Linked DNA regions of Homo sapiens: region 2 is linked to region 1. Evidence: fine-mapped expression QTL. Tissue or cell type: esophagus muscle. Region 1 holds a variant in brackets; the other region holds the start of a gene. All regions are shown on one strand. Distances are between the middles of the regions.

Region 1 (2,910 bases):
TTTTTTTTTTTTTGACGGAGTGTTGCTCTGTCGCCCAGGCTGGAGTGCAATGGCATGATCTCGACTCACTGCAACCTCCGCCTCCTGGGTTCAAGTGATTCTCCTGCCTCGGCCTCCCAAGTAGCTGGGACTACAGGCACCCACCACCACGCCTGGCTAATTTTTCGTATTTTTAGTAGAGACGGGGTTTCACTGTGTTAGCCAGGATGGTCTCCATCTCCTGACTCGTGATCCACCCGCCTCGGCCTCCCAAAGTGCTGGGATTACAGGCATGAGCCACCGCGCCCAGCCAGCTCTGGTCATTTTGCTTCAAATAATATAGAGACAGTCCCCAACTTAAAACAGTTCAACTTATGATTTTTTGATTGTTTAATCTTCTCACTTTATGATGGGTTTATCTAATTATTAAGGGCTTTTTTGTTTTGAGACAGAATCTCACTGTCACCCAGGCTGGAGTGCAGTGGCATGATCTCCGCTTACTGCAACCTCCACCCCCCAGGTTCAAGCGGCTCTCGTGCCTCAGCCTCCCGAGTAGCTGGGATTACAGGCGCCCGTCACAATGCTTGGCTAATTTTTGTGTTTTCAGTAGAGATAGGGTTTCATCATGTTGGCCAGGCTGGTCTCGAACTCCTGACCTCAAGTGATCCACCCACCTTGGCCTCCCAAAGTGCTGGCATTACAGGCATGAGCCACTGTGCCTGGCCAAGTGCATTTTTGAGTTACAATATTTTCGACTTATGATGGATTCATCAGGATGTAACCCCACTGTAAGTCAAGGAGCATCTGTATATTATTCCTAAAAGGTTCTGGATGAATATAATTTTAATTTTAAATGCAATAAAATTGCTGATATTTATCACAGTGAATCTCATTATAAAATGAATTCCCTATTATCTAAGTTAAAATAAAAGTCTAGCTTTTCACATGCCAGGAAAAATACTTTGCATCCTGGCTAAACAGAAAGGAAATTATCTTTAAATCACAAAAGAAACATTGATGTTCTCACTGTGGGATGACAAAGACTCTCTCCTTTGACCAAACTTGAAACCGGTTCTTCTGGGTTTGTTTGCTTTTGGAGACAGGGTCTCACTCTGTCACCCAGGCTGCAGTGCAGTGGTACAATCACGGTTTACTACCACCTCAACCTCCTGGGCTCAAGTGATCCTGCCACCTCAGCCTCCCAGGTAGGTGGGACAGCTGGCTAATTTTTGTATTTTTAGTAAAGAGGGGGTTTCGCCATGTTGCCCAGGCTGGTCTCGAACTCCTGGGCTCAAGCGATCCTCCCGTCTCAGCCTCCCAAAGTGCTGGGATTACAGGCATGAGCCACCGTGCC[C/T]GGCTCTGAGTCCTCTTTCTGACTAGGCCTCGACTTTGGGTTCTATCTTGACCTGCTTAGTCCAGTCTCAGCAAAAATCCTGCTGAGTCATTTTAGTGAAAATCCCCTACCCTTGGTGTCTGATCCCCCTACCCTCGATATCTTATCATGCTGGCCTGCCTTCAACAAGAATCCCCTCCAACCTGGATTTTTCCTCTTAGTAACTTTCCACCCATTGACCCACACTCTGCTCCTTGGCTATAAATTTCCACTTGTCCTTGTTGCATTAGGAGTTCAACCTGATCTCTCCCCACTATTGCAAAACTCCCACTGTAGTGGTCCCTCTTGAATAAAGCCTTCCCTACCATCTTTAACAAGTATCAGATAATTTTTTTTTCTTTTTTCTTTTTTTTTTTTTTTGAGACAGGGTCTCGCTCTGTCACCCAACCTCCACCTCCCGAGTTCAAGCAATTCTCCCTGCCTCAGCCTCTGGAGTAGCTGGGATTAAAGGCATCCGCCACCATGCCCGGCTAATTTTTGTATTTTTACAAAGAGATAGGGTTTCACCATGTTGGCCAGGCTGGTCTTGAACTCCTGACCTCAGGTGATCCGCCCACCTCGGCCTCCCAAACTGTTGGGATTACAGGTGTGAGCCACCAACCATGTCTAGCCAGTTTTTTTTTTTCTTTAAGAGGAAAAAGGAAGTTCTGGAATAGGGAAGAAGTAGAAGAATTCTGGTGTTAAACTGAAACTGGTAGTATCAGTATGAACTAATAATTTTTTCACAATTATGAGTTTTTGAGGGTAATGAAAGTATACATGTTTAAATTTCCAAGTTGGCAGCCTGTTAGGAGTCACAGGATACGAGCATGTTGTGAGCAGTGAGAGCTGGCTGGCAGGTGTGAGGTGGCCATAGTCAGCTTCTCATCTCTTCTCTAGAAGTTGCAGATCTAGATGGTTTCAGAATTTAAAGGTTTTTCAATTTTAGGAAGGTAAAAAGGAGTCTATACCATACATTGTACAATACAGAGTATTAGAGAGCCACAACATAGCTGCAGTGAAATACGTGAACATTTCCAGTAAGTAGGATAAGGACTATGGAATCAAGTCAGTTCAGGTCTGGTTTTGCCACAAAATGAGTTGTGGCAGCAAATATATGAAAAAGAAATTCAATTTTCAGAGTTTTTTGAGTTCAGGATTCAGAGAAAAGCTTATGGTCCTGCGGGGCGTTGATGACAAAGGTCAGGTGCTGAAGTTCGATGACAAAGGTCAGGGTTTGAATCTTGACTAGAGCATTCACAAGCTTCATGAGCAGGGGTAAGTTTCTTTACACTTCTAAACTTCATTGTAACCACCTATAAAAAAAGAGCAGTATCTACTTCACAGAGATTTGGTGAGGGTTAACATGTGCTTAACATTTAAACCAGAGGCAGTGGCTCACGCCCGTAATCCTAGCTACTTGGGAGGCTGAGATGGGAAGATCATGTGAGGCCAGGAGTTCGAGACCAGCCTGGGCAATGTGGCAAGACCCCCATCTCTATAAATAAAAACTTAATAAACCACAATATTTAACAGTCACATATTCTTAAAACTTAGAA
Region 2 (2,910 bases), 26 kb after region 1:
CCAACTGACACTATCACTGACACCCTTGACATTTACATAAAATTCATTAAATGAACAGACACCCTACGATTTCCCCTGGAGAGCTTAGAACATCTTTGCTGCTGGATTTGATTTTCCTCCAGGGATGCTGAGTTCCATTCTGATACCTCAATGCATGCGTTTTACTTTTAGGTGTTTCACAACCAGCTCCTTCGTTTTCTGGGGAAACATGATTCAGTTAACAGAAGGTGGTGGAATCTATTCCCATCTCAGCTAGGCCTGAGGCAGGCTGGGAACCCGAATCTTCTTTGGTCCCACCTCAATCCGTGAAAGCCGCCCACCAGCCCACCGGACAGGGAGAATGTGGGTGGGACACCAATGGAGAAGAGAAACGAAAGGTGCTGGCACTAAAGCCAGAGTTGTATTAGACCCTGCTCTGATGCTAGGATCCCAGACGTCCGCTCTTCCCAAGCATCTAAGGCGTCTGCAGGCCAGGCCTCTAACTGATTTAACATAACCTGATGAAGACAACAGTTCGAGTCCTGCCACTCCAGCCACACAGCAACACCTTAGAGCAGAAAAGGAACAAAATGCCATTGCATAATTTATTCAACCTCAAGGTATTTCTAAACAGTTCTTACCCAACCAAAAAAAAAAAATTCTAAAAATAAAAACATTAAAAAGCCACCCACATCTCGTTCTGAAGTTTTAAGGGCTGTGAGGTTTGTGTCAAGCAGATTTGAAGCTAACGACCGCAGGTTTGGGGAGTCTCGCCTGCGATGAGGGTCCTGCAATGAGACGCCGTTTCTGTGTCTCCGGGTAAGTCCCAGGCTGGGTGCGAGGGGGCCAGGCCCTGCCCCTCCGCGCCCCGAAATCCGAGCCCCAGGAGAGCCCCCCGGATATTCCCTAGCCCCGCCTGCGGTTCCCACAGACTTTACCCCGAAGCTGCGGAGATCCGGGGTGGCAGCCCGAATGGCGGCGGCCCCGGGCCCATGGGGACCCTTGGCCCCGTACTCACCGAAGTCCAGGAATTGTTTGATGGAGAGCGGCGACGGCGAAAAGCGCGAGTAGCGCTCGATCTGCTTGGGCACCGGCTGCTTCAGCAGCCACCGGAACAGCCGCATCCTCGCCCGGGCGGCGCACAGACCCGCCTAGACGCCCGGGTGGCCGCAAGGGCTGGCGCAGCCAAGCCGCACGGATAGGGCACGTTTGCGAAGCGCGCACCCCGGCCTCGATCTCGGCCTCGGCGCCGCCGGTGCAGCCGCCGCAGCAGCAGCAGCAGCTCCAGGACAGCGGCGGGCCGCCCGCGGCTTCCCTAGGCTCCGCCTCGCTGGGCGGAGTCGGTTGCTGCACGTACGCGGCGCGCGAGGGGAGGCGAGGAGCGCGAGGGGCACGCGGCCGCGCGCGCCCTCCACTGATTGGCCGCCGCTGCCTCTGTGACGTTTGTGTTTTGTCCGGGCGCGGCGCCAGAGACCCCCCTCCCTGGCTCATGGGACTCAGCCCAGCCCAGCAAGTGCAGCCGCTTTCAGCTCCGCCTCTGGCTGGGTTCTCCGCTGCCGAAAGGTAGCCGAGGTGCCCGCGGACCGGGAAGAGGCCAGGAGCCCGGAATCCGATCCTCCGCGCTGCTCAAGACCCTTCTCAACCGCAGGCGCCTTTTCCGGGAGGAGGACTTGCCGTTCGCTGCATCCTGACACTTAGATTTTACAGCCTAACTAGACTGACTCTGTTTCGTGGCCCAGCCCCACCCCCACCTCCCTGCCTGACTCCCAAGAGAACACCTTTGGAACACCTTTGGACTGGATTGTTAGTTCGCTGATTCTCTTTTTCGTGGTTCCTTTCCCCTCCTTCCCGCACAAGATTAAGTGACTGATTGCATTTCATGTCCCCCCACCACCACCGTTGGACGGGATCCATTGTGAGGTCAAGGGTCAATAACACCCCCTACCTCCCCAATGCCAGTGGACAGGATAATTGCAAGGTCACTGACTCTGTTTCATACCCCCCCACCCCACTACTACCATTGGAAAGGATCAAATGTAAGGTCACTGGCACTTTCTTTCATACCCCTTCTCTACACCACCACCATAGGACAGCCCCCTTCACGCTTCACCACCACTTTTGGACAGGAGTCTATGCTTACACAGTGTTGGGTATTCTTTATCTCAAGTGAACTTGAGAGCCTGGCATGGTGACATGCACCTATAGTCCCAACGACCCTGCAGGCGGAGGTGGGAGGATCACGTGAGCCCAAAAGTTCAAGATCTGCCTAGGCAACATACCCAGACCCCCCTCTCAAAAAAAAAAAAAAGTGAACTTGAACTCAGGGCTCAGTATATGAAATTGTTATTTCCTATTATGAGTGAATAAAGTACAGCTTACTTTAGCCATTTCCACCAAACCTTGGCTTTTTTTTTTTTTTTGGCAATATGTAAACATAAACATATGTAACTAAAAGGACAGGAAGAATGTTCTTTAAGGAAAGGTACAAATGTGACTGGAAGCCACTCCTTGGGTCTCTGATTGGACTAGTTTTCTCACTGAATGAGATTATTGGTGGGTAGCTATTTAGCTTTTGTGCCTTCAGTGGACGTTTATGCAGCCAATTCTTTGCTTAATAAAATAGTTGCATCTCTACTCTGAATGTAAAGAAAAGTAACATACACAGTAAAAGACCTCGGCCAGGTGCGGTGGCTCACGCCTGTAATCCCAGCACTTTGGGAGGCCGAGGCGGGCGGATCACGAGGTCAGGAAACCGAGACCATCCTGGCTAACGTGGTGAAACCCCAGCTCTACTAAAAGTACGAAAAATTAGCCGGGCGTGGTGGCGGGCCCCTGTAGCCCCAGCTACTCAGGAGGCTGGGGCAGGAGAATGGCATGAACCTGGGAGGCGGAGCTTGCAGTGAGCCGAGATCGTGCCACTGCACTCCAGCC

Which allele goes with the higher level. Positions count from the first base shown, and alleles are read on the strand shown. Sizes are in standard deviations (SD) of each study's normalised expression.
For the expression in esophagus muscle of the gene that starts at base 1,273 in region 2, T is the high allele of the variant in region 1 and C is the other (moderate effect, 0.61 SD a copy in GTEx).

What was found.
Region 2: PDK3 starts here. The variant in region 1 is fine-mapped to the expression of PDK3 in esophagus muscle (GTEx, PIP 0.97).

What each region holds. Positions count from the first base shown.
Region 1 is chrX:24,490,101-24,493,010 of GRCh38, reverse strand. All of the region lies in intron 1 of PDK3 (pyruvate dehydrogenase kinase 3), which reads right to left. Among named protein-coding and RNA genes, the nearest start is that of PDK3, 26 kb to the right of the region's middle. RefSeq lists an enhancer at 814-1,777. The variant C/T (reference allele first, on the strand shown) is at 1,334.
Region 2 is chrX:24,463,649-24,466,558 of GRCh38, reverse strand. PDK3 (pyruvate dehydrogenase kinase 3) reads right to left here and starts at 1,273. Exons shown (of 11, transcript NM_005391.5): 1 at 998-1,273. The coding sequence starts at 1,103. RefSeq lists a silencer at 1,213-1,532.